3 linked regions of the Homo sapiens genome follow. The protein of the gene in region 3 interacts with the protein of the main gene of each other region in a biochemical or structural test. Each region holds a gene or a part of one and is shown on either strand. Other genes may lie near its edges. The genes, in order: CDK11B, WWP1 and YWHAQ.

Region 1 (3,757 bases), on a different chromosome or scaffold from region 3:
TGAAGTGCAATACAACAAGGTATGCCTGTACTCACTAACATCCCAAATGATGCTGCTAAAGATCTTAGCAAAAGAGGTACTTTGCCAATGCCTCTTACCAAATTACTAAAAAGGTTTCCTGAGTACATTACCATGCAAACCAAGAAAGATGTAAAATATTTATATTAATTTCAAGGCAAGTTCCCACTATATTAAAAATACTTAGAGATAGTATTATGAACATACTAATGAACCGAGAAAAATTAGTCCAGTTTTGCTAATGACTTAACATTCAACGTATTTTATTCTCCATGTATGCTCAATCTAGACACAGCTTTAGTGTGTTAAATCTGCCTTTAATGTCAACTGAATATTTGAATGTTTTTGTTAATTTTTAGAATAGATTTTGGGCTCACCTGCGACATTTGGAAGTACAAAAGAACTTCACCGAAGAAGCGTTGTTCTAATGGAAAAATGAGGGCAAAGAAATTAAATCTCCTTTAAGAAAACCACTTACTTAAAAAATATGGCTTACATTTTTTAAGCGTTTTATCTCTGCTTTCTCCTCTTGTTCCTTCCTTCGTTTCTTTTCCTGAAGAATTTCATCTAAAGTTTTCACTTTCCAAGAGTCCTTTTCATCACCCATTTGAGTTAAAACACTGCAAAAAGAAAAATAATTCAGCCTACATCAGGACACAGCAAGCTATGGTGCTGAACACTTGAACCTAGTCACTTTTGAGGGATTCAGAATAAATCCTCATTAAGAATAAGAAGTTGTGCCCGGCGCAGTGGCTCAAGACGGTAACCCTAGCACTTTGGGAGGCCGAGGCGAGCAGATCGCTGGAGTTCCGGAGTTCAACACCAGCCCGGGCAACATGGCAAAACCTCGTCTCTACAAAAAATACAAAAGTTAGCCCAGTGTGGTGGCGCGTGCCTGTATTCCTAGCTACAGGAAGGAGGCTGCTAGAGGCAGGAGGATCACTTGAATCAGAGAGGTCAAGGCTGCAATGAGCCAAGACTGCGCCACTGCACTCCAGCCTAGATAACAAAGTAAGACTTGGTTAAAAAAAAAAAAAAAAAAAAAAAAGTAAGCTCTAGGCTGAGGCGGGTGGATCACAAGGTCAGGAGGTCAAGACCAGCCTGGCCAACACGGCGAAAACCCTGTCTCCACTAAAAATACAAAACTTAGCTGGGCGTGGTGGCGGGTGCCTGTAATCCCAGCTACTCGGGAGGCCGAGGCAGCAGAATCGCTTGAATCCGAAAGGCGGAGGTTCCGGTGAGCCGAGGTCGCGTCACTGCACTCCAGCAAGACCCCGTCTCAAAAAAAAAAGAAAAAAAAACAAGAATGATAAGTTGTAAGCCAGGCAAGGTGGCGAGCGCCTGTAGTCCCATATACTCTGCAAGCTGAGATGGGAGACCGATTGAGCCCAGGAGTTCCAGGCTGAAGTGCGCTTGTGAACAGCCACTGCGCTGCAGCATGGGCGACAAAAAAGAGTGATGGGTTCTGAAAAATGACCGCTTGAAATCAAGTCTCGTTTCTGTCATTCTTGTATGGTCTTGGGTAACGTAATTCACCTCAGTTTAGTCTTCCGTACAACCAGAATAACAACACCTACGTGATAGTATCGATCGCGGATTAAAGATCATCCGTTTAAAGGCTCTTAACTCAGGACCTGCCACTCATCAAACACTGCTTTTACTGTCAGAATCTGCTAGAAAGACCGCTTGGACTACGTGAAGCCACTAGCACACTGGACAGCTGCACCTTGAGACCGGGGAGATGCTCCGAGATGTGCTCGCGAACAAGGCCACCTGACCCGGGCACTGGGCTATTTCCTCGGGTTCAGTCCCGCACACTTGAGGTTCAGCCTGGCAGACGTTGGCTCCAGACAGCGTTTGGACCCGCCGCCTCCACCACCCAAAGTTCCGTGCGGGATGAGACTGTCCGCGGAAGCGAGGGTGTCGCTCGCCCCCGGGCCCGGGTCCGCCCCGCTCCGAGGCCTGCTCGGAAGAAAGACCTCGGTGCGCAGTTCTCCTCGCGCTCCCACACCTGGTCCGCCCAGTCGGAACTCACCCCTACGCCGCCGCCGCTGCCGCCGCCGCCGCCGCCGGTCCCGGAGCCAGAGAAGAAACAGCAACCGGCGCGCGCCAAAAGTATCGTCACTTCCTGTATTGGCGCGTAATGATGATATAATAGCCGACCTCCGGCCCAGAACTCGAGACAACGACAGGGGCTCGCTCTGTGCGGCACTTCCTGTGTCTGCGCGGGATGATAACGCATAAAACAGCGCTTGCTCAGGTCCAGGACGCCAGAAGAAACAGCCCGGTGAGCGCACTTCCGACTTCGGCGCGGGCTGTGACGCAGGAATCGGGACTCCGGAGGAGCGACGCCCACTTTTGGAGCAGTTTGCGCCTGCGCGGAACGCGTGGCCGGCTTCCGGAATCCTACCGGGACTTTTCCGGTAGCGAAGCCCGCGCCTGTGCCAAGGCTTGCGAGCAGAATGCCTTCGCGATGGACGCCCGCATTCCACCCCCTTGACCGCTGGGACCCCTAGTGGCGGGTGGGTGGAGCGCGCTCCATTTACCTGCTGGTTACCTCGTGAGGCGCCTCAGGTCTGTGTGTCTTGTAAAGGCCGATCTCGGAATTTAACTCTGAACCTTACTCAGAAACAGGGCAGGGAGAGCTCTTACGATGTGATTTTATTTTATTTATTCATGTATTTACTTTTGAGTCGGAGCCTTGCTCTGCCGCCCAGGTTGGAGTGCAGTGGCGTGGTCTTGGCTCACTGCAGCCTCCTCCCGGGTTCAAGGAATTTTCCTGCCTCAGCCTCCCGAGTAGCTGGAACCACAGGCCCGCGCCACCACGCCCGGCTAATTTTTATATTTTTGGTAGAGACGAGGTTTCGCCATATTGGCCAGGCTGGTCTCGAACTCCTGACCTCAAGTGATCCGCCCGCTTCGTCCTCCTAAAGTGCTGGGATTACAGGCGTGAGCCACCGCGCCCGGCCTTTTACAATGTGATTTTGAAGCTGACACTGGCAGTGGGTCCTCAAAGTGCAGACTCACTGGGTATGGTGCTTCCCCCAACTCCCAGGGCCCCACTCCAAACCCATGGATTCAGAGCATTGCAGGAGAAGAGGATAAAACGAGCAATTAATTCCCTTTCCATATGTCAGGTTTTCCTCTTGACTTGAAAAGTCACAGAAAAATGCTTTAGACATCTGAATCTCAGGAAACAAACAATGGAAGATAAACATCCGCATTTACTGGGCCTGAAATGGGAAAATGAAAGATGTGGCAAGAAACTGACAAGGGCCCAAGAAGGGCGATGGGTATCGGAATTTTTTTCATCCCGGAATGAAATGCTGCTTGCTTTGTGTACCCAAGCTCTTTTTTTATTTTTATTTTTTTGAGACGGAGTCTCGCTCTGTTGCCCAGGCTGGAGTGCAGTGGCGCGATCTCGGGTCACTGGAAGCTCCGCCACCCGGGTTCACGCCATTCTCCCGCCTCCACTCCATTCGCCCGCATTAGGCTCCTGAGTACCTGTGACTACAGGCGCCTGCCACCATGCCCGGCTAATTTTTTTTTTATTTTGGGTAGAGACGGGGTTTTACCGTGTTAGCCAGGATGGTCTCAATCTCCTGACCTCGTGATCAGCCTGCCTCTGCCTCCCAAAGTGCTGGGATTACAGGCGTGAGCCACCGCGCCTGGCCTCCCCCAAGCTCTTAATGTTGCTTCCTGAGTTCTTGGTAACTGGGGAAATCTCCCTATTTTTTTA
Region 2 (2,385 bases), on a different chromosome or scaffold from region 3:
TTAGTTGTTCATAACTCTTATATGGTGGTAGATCCAAGCGATTAAAACTGAACAGAAACAAAAACAAAATCAGATGTTTTCAATAAAATGAAAAAAATCTAATAGAATACTTTTCAAAGCACATAGAAATGCTGAATGGATATATGTATACTATATATGTTAAAATTTTGCCAGAAGTATTTAGAGTAATCTAAATTTAAGACTTACATATAAAAACTATTTTAACATCTCCAAGAGGAAAATGGAATTACAAATAATAAGTGTAGCAATATGGATAAAGACAAATTTAAAAAAAAAAAAAAATCCATTTTCTTTTTACTATTCCTGTTACATGTGTCATGAGTCCTCTTAACTTCTCTTAGGATAAGAGTCCATTTCTTTCATCCACTCAGTCACTCATTCATCAGTCATTTACCGAGAATTTTTTATATAACTGATAAGCTAGTGATACAGTGAAGAAAACTAAAATCCCTGTCTTCATGGAATTTACATTCTGGGGTAGAGACAGTCAATTAACAAATATATATGTTTCTTTGTCTTTTCAAATAATCTAACCACATATATAAACTCTTCTAAAATGACACTTTTTCAATCTTGCCATACTCAATTCCATTCTGGTATTAACTGATAAAAATTTTAAAATACTAAAAAATGCTTAAAATAACTATTATTTTTCAGTTTACAAAGGTGGAATAACATTTCGTTTTGTGAGGTACAGCACTGAGTAGCTAGATTAGGATTCGGGTGTTCAGGGTTTTGGTCCCTACAGTAGCAGTGACTAGTGAGATAGCCCTGAGTAAGTCAGAACCCTTCTGTACCTTCATTTTCCCATGTGGAAGGTTTCTAGAGATTATCCAGGTGCCTTCTTACCACTGTCACCACTTTCCATGTGCCCTTGACCCTCCCATGTCAGAGTCAGGAAAGAGCCTTTGAAACAAGGCATCTAAATAAAACAGTGCTGTTCTAAGACTGTATTCTTTGTATTTTAAATGAAGTTAAAGATATTAATAGCAGCAACTAAGCAGACCATATACTGCCCTCCCCTTTATACTTCAAGGTAGAGTATGATAACAAGGTCAGAAAAAAAAATTATTTTTTAATACTTCCTATACAAGACAACCAGTCACTTTCTGTTCTCTTACATCTTTCACATATAGCCTTTGCCAAATTCTGTCATTCTATCTACCAAATATTCCATTTTTTCTCCTGATTATTTATTTGGAGACAGGGTCTGGCTGTGTCGCCTAGGCTACTGTCTCGGCTCACTGCGACCTCGACCTCCCAGGCTGAAGCAATCCTCCCTCCTCCCACCTCAGTCCCTGGAGTGGCTGGGAGTACAGGCGCATGCCACCATGGCCAGCTAACTTTTGTATTTTTTTTTGTAGAGACGAAGTTTTGTCATGTTGCCCAGGCTCCTCCTCATCATTTCTACTGCCACTACATCCCTTTGTATATGCTTCCCCATCATCTCTTACCTGGACCATCAGAGAATTCTTTGGGTCTATTTGTTTTGTTTCTTTTTTACTTTTTGCTAAAAAGACATACCAGTTTATGCCACTCTTCAAAAACTTTTGCTGCTTTCGAGTTGCTATGGGTGGGGAGGGGGCTGTGGTGGGGAAAGGAAGCTTATGCTCTTTGCTGTCAACTTGTTTCATGCTCTAATCCAAGTGAGCAATCCAATTTTGCCTAGCAATCTTAGCCGTGTTCCTCTAATGAATACTTGCCTATTCTCTAACAATTCTCCCAATTCCTTCTTTCTCTCAAAAGTTTTTCCTTTCTTCACTCTTAGCCAGTGACTTCTCCTTATACTTTGAGAAAACAGAAATCAGTGGGTGGTAATTACTTTCCTTTCACAAAATTTGAAATCTATTTTAATTCTCCCTTTGACTCAAAAATCTCTCTCTCAATACACACACACACGCGCGCGCATGTGTGTATACATATGGATCTATCACTTTTATTGAAGGCAGAGGTCTTCAAATTTTGGTCACAGGACTCCTTTTCACTCTTAAAAATACTGTCAACCTTGGCTGGGAGCAGTGGCTCATGCCTATAATCCCAGCACTTTCAGAGGCCAAGGCAGGACAGCTTGAGCCCAGAGTTTAAGACCCACCTGGGACAACACAGCAAAACTTTGTCCCTACAAAAAATTAAAAAATTAGCCAGGCATAGTGGCGTGCACTGGTGGTCCCAGCTACTGAGGAGGCTATGGCAGGAGGATTGCTTGAACCCAGGAGGTTGAGGCTGCAGTGAGTTGTGTCTGTGCCACTGCACTCTAACATAGGTAACACAGCAAGACTCTATCTTGGGAAAAAAAAAATGGATTTCCAACTGCAAAGAGCTTTTATTTATATGAATTATAGCTACTGATATTTACTGGATTAG
Region 3 (3,657 bases):
GATGACTACTCAGAAAATAAACTGCTCAATCACCCAAACACAGTAATAAAATTCTCGTAGAACAGCAGTTCTACTATTAACTTCAGTAATTAAATTCTCATAGGGCAAAGTATAGTCTGGGAACCCCTAGAGGTCTCCCCTATATCCTTTGTGGGGTGGAGAGGAGACAAAGTAAAACCACTTTCATAAGTCTAAGATATTTGCTTTTTTTCCACTGTCATTTTCTCACAAGTGGAGTTTTCCAGAAGCTACAGGAGGTGGAATACTACAATAGGTTGAATGAAATGCAATGCCGCTATTCTCATTCAATTTTTTGTTAAAGTTATTTTATTTTCTAAAAAGGGGTCCTGAGATCAAATTTGTGAACCACTGTCCCAGAGTATGGCCAATTAAGACGTCTTACACAGCATCTGGTAACTCCATCAATCTACTTAGCACTCATCACCCAAACAAAAAAGTGATGGTGCCAGTGATGTCTCCTAAGTGGGGATCAATACCGTTCTATACATTCTCGTATCTTGAGGATAACAAGACACAGGCTACACACTATCTTCTTGCTATATGTATTAAAGACACTCAACCAGTGATGTGAAATATCATAACCCCCAATACATGGCAACCAACAATTACAGTGAACACCCCCACATATCCACCACCTGGATCTTACCATTAACCTTTTGCCATACTTGCTTTTTCAGATACCCATACATTTCTAGCAGTTACAAGCTGAAGACATAAGTACAGGCATATCACTAGTTTTTTTTCAAAGCAAAATTTACATACAAAATGCACAAATCTTGGGTGTACATTTGCTGAGTTTTGACAAATGTATAAAACCCAAACCCATATCAACTAAAGAATACAATTATCCATTCTACTATAAAGACACATGCACACATACGTTTATTGCAGCACTATTCACAATAGCAAAGACTTGGAACCAACCCAAATGCCCATCAACGATAAACTGGATCAAGAAAATGTGGCATATATACACCATGGAATACTATGCAACCATAAAAAGGATGAGTTCATGTCCTTTGCAAGGACATAGATGAAGCTGGAAACCATCATTCTCAGCAAACTAACACAGGAACAGAAAACCAAGCACCGCATGTTTTCACTTACAAGTGGGAGTTGAACAATGAGAACACATGGACACAAGGAGGGGAACATCACACAGCGGGGACTGTCAGGGCGTCGGGGGCTAGGGGAGGAATAGCATTGGAGAAATACCTAATGTAGATGACGGGCTGATGGGTGCAGCAAACCACCATGGCACATGTATACCTATGAAAGAAACCTGCACGTCCTGCACTTGTATCCCAGAACTTAAAGTATTAAAAAAAAAAAAAAATACAATTATCCCAGAAGCCTGCCCCTTCCCAATCTCTGCCTATTCTCCCACAGAGGCCATTATTCCTGATTTTTTTTCCTACCATAAACAGGTTGTGTTTGTTCTAAAATTTCATATAAATGGAATCACATACACTATGTACTTTTTCATGCAAAGTTTCTTTCACCTAGCATGTTTTTGAAATTCAATCATATTGTAGTATCAGTGGTCCATTCATTTTAATGCTGAATAGTATTCCATTTATGAATACATCAGTGTTTATCAATTTTCCTACTAGTGGATTATTTCTAGTTTTCTGCTCTTAGAATAAAGCTGTTATTAACATTTTTGTACCTATGCGCCTTGGCCCCATGCATCATTCCCTCTTGCGTAAACACCTAAGAGTGGAATTTCTAGGGGAGGAAAAACTTATAATAGGGAATTTTAAAGGTACACAGGAGAACAAAGAATAGTACAATGAATTCCAATTAAAGCCAGCTGCAACTATATTAATTCATAGACACTCCTGTTTCATCTGTATTCCCCCAATTACTCTGAAGTCCTAGGTATTATCATCATTTTGTCTTTAAATACTCAATATGCAAACAATAGTTTCAAATCTAGTAATTTATCATATTTATCACTGACTTATCTATGGATTAAGAGTTTAATTAAAGTAGCAATGGATAAACTTTGCTTCTCTTCACATCTTTTAAATGATGTCTCTCTACCACCTCCCTGATATCCAGAAAGTCAGTGGTATGAATTCAGATACGTTTTCTGTTGCCATTTGGAAAGGATTAGTGTTAAATACAAAAACTGGTCTTAATGATAAAAATAGAGAACATTACCATAGCCAACCAGATTTCCCAACTGCCAAAGCAACACCTTGACTGAACTAATCCCATGCTATGGTATCATGTTCTAAATGAAACTACATGAGACTTAAAAATACTAGTTTTCTTAAGCAGTCCTTTGTGAGAAGGGAGGTGGTCCTCATACATCCAATACTGAACAAGGAGATAAGACGTTAAACCTTCTGGTCACCAGATTTTTGTTAGCCTTAAAAACTTGCTTGTGCTGGAAAGGGTTAGGGGAAATGAATGACCTTCTCAACCACTGCTGATGACAGTGTATACACATACCTTTTCAGAAGGCTATCTGGAAAAAACCGCACATCTTTTGATTTGGAAATTCCACTTCGAGAACTTAAGTAAATCCTAGCATAAAGCATGCAACAACGATCTTCTTCCCAGGGGTTGTTTGGAGAAAAATTGTTGACAGTGTTCACCACTGCATTAAAAGTCTGAACCACGGCCGGGTGCAGTGGCTCACGCCTATAATCCCAGCACTTTGGGAAGCCGAGGCGGGAGGATCACCTGAGGTCGGGAGTTTGAGACCAACCTGACCAACACGGAGAAACCTCGTCTCTACTAAAAATACAAAATTAGCCGGGTGTGGTGGTGCATGCCTGTAATCCCAACTACTTGTGAGGCTGACACAGGAGAATTGCTTGAACCCGGAGGCAGAGGTTGAGGTGAACCAAGATTGCGCCACTGCACTCTAGCCTGGGCAACAAGAGCAAAACTCTGTCTCAACAAAATAAATAAATAAATAAATAAAATTAAATTTAAAAAGTCTGAACCACATATGCCAAGCTACTATGAAGGAGGGGAGGAGATTTGCCGTTCATCAATTTTCACTGCATCTAATAGATTTCAATATAATTGCAGTCTGTGCGAAGTCTTTAAAAGAGCTCAGGGCTTTGGAGACAACTATGAAGAAGTGGCACTTTGAAAATATAGGACCCGGCCAGACACAGTGGTTCACGCCTGTAATCTCAGCACTCTGGGTGGATTGCTTGAGCTCAGGAGTTCAAGACCAGCCTGGGCAACATGGCAAAACTTCATCTCTACAAAAAATACAAAAATTAGCCAGGCATAGTGGCAAGTGCCTGTAGTCCCAGCTACTCCGGATGCTGAGGTGGGAGGATGGCTCGAGCCCGGGAGGTGGAGGTTGCAGTGAGCCCAGATGGCGCAACTGCACTCCAGCCTAGGCCACAGAGCCAGACTCTGTCTCAAAAATAAAAACAAATCAAATCAAACCAAACAAAAAATAGGACCCACTGAATAAGTTTCAGTAAGGTGAACTGTAGAGTTTGAACAGCATACACACAATAATGACAAGGGGAAAAATGACAAGTCTAGCTAGACAAGAGGTTCAGGTAAGATATCAACACGTTAGGAAGAAGCCAAAGGACAGCATGACACAATCCAATACAACTTAATACAGCTCATTTTATTTATGGACTAATCCAAGGC

Evidence for each region.
Region 1: the proteins of YWHAQ (region 3) and CDK11B form a complex in vitro, tested with the Homo sapiens proteins (one study listed by BioGRID).
Region 2: the proteins of YWHAQ (region 3) and WWP1 form a complex in vitro, tested with the Homo sapiens proteins (one large-scale study listed by BioGRID).

Annotation. Positions count from the first base shown.
Region 1 is NC_000001.11:1,656,861-1,660,617, forward strand, and holds the start of CDK11B (cyclin-dependent kinase 11B), read right to left. Parts: upstream 2,145-3,757; 5' UTR 2,054-2,144; exon of another isoform or gene 1,596-2,053; intron 639-1,595; 5' UTR 626-638; coding exon 515-625; intron 443-514; exon of another isoform or gene 405-442; coding exon of another isoform or gene 396-404; intron 1-395. UniProt on the Homo sapiens protein: Plays multiple roles in cell cycle progression, cytokinesis and apoptosis. Involved in pre-mRNA splicing in a kinase activity-dependent manner. Isoform 7 may act as a negative regulator of normal cell cycle progression.
Region 2 is NC_000008.11:86,464,456-86,466,840, reverse strand, and holds part of WWP1 (NEDD4-like E3 ubiquitin-protein ligase WWP1), read right to left. Parts: intron 48-2,385; coding exon 1-47. UniProt on the Homo sapiens protein: E3 ubiquitin-protein ligase which accepts ubiquitin from an E2 ubiquitin-conjugating enzyme in the form of a thioester and then directly transfers the ubiquitin to targeted substrates.
Region 3 is NC_000002.12:9,620,841-9,624,497, forward strand, and holds part of YWHAQ (14-3-3 protein theta), read right to left. Parts: intron 1-3,657. UniProt on the Homo sapiens protein: Adapter protein implicated in the regulation of a large spectrum of both general and specialized signaling pathways. Binds to a large number of partners, usually by recognition of a phosphoserine or phosphothreonine motif.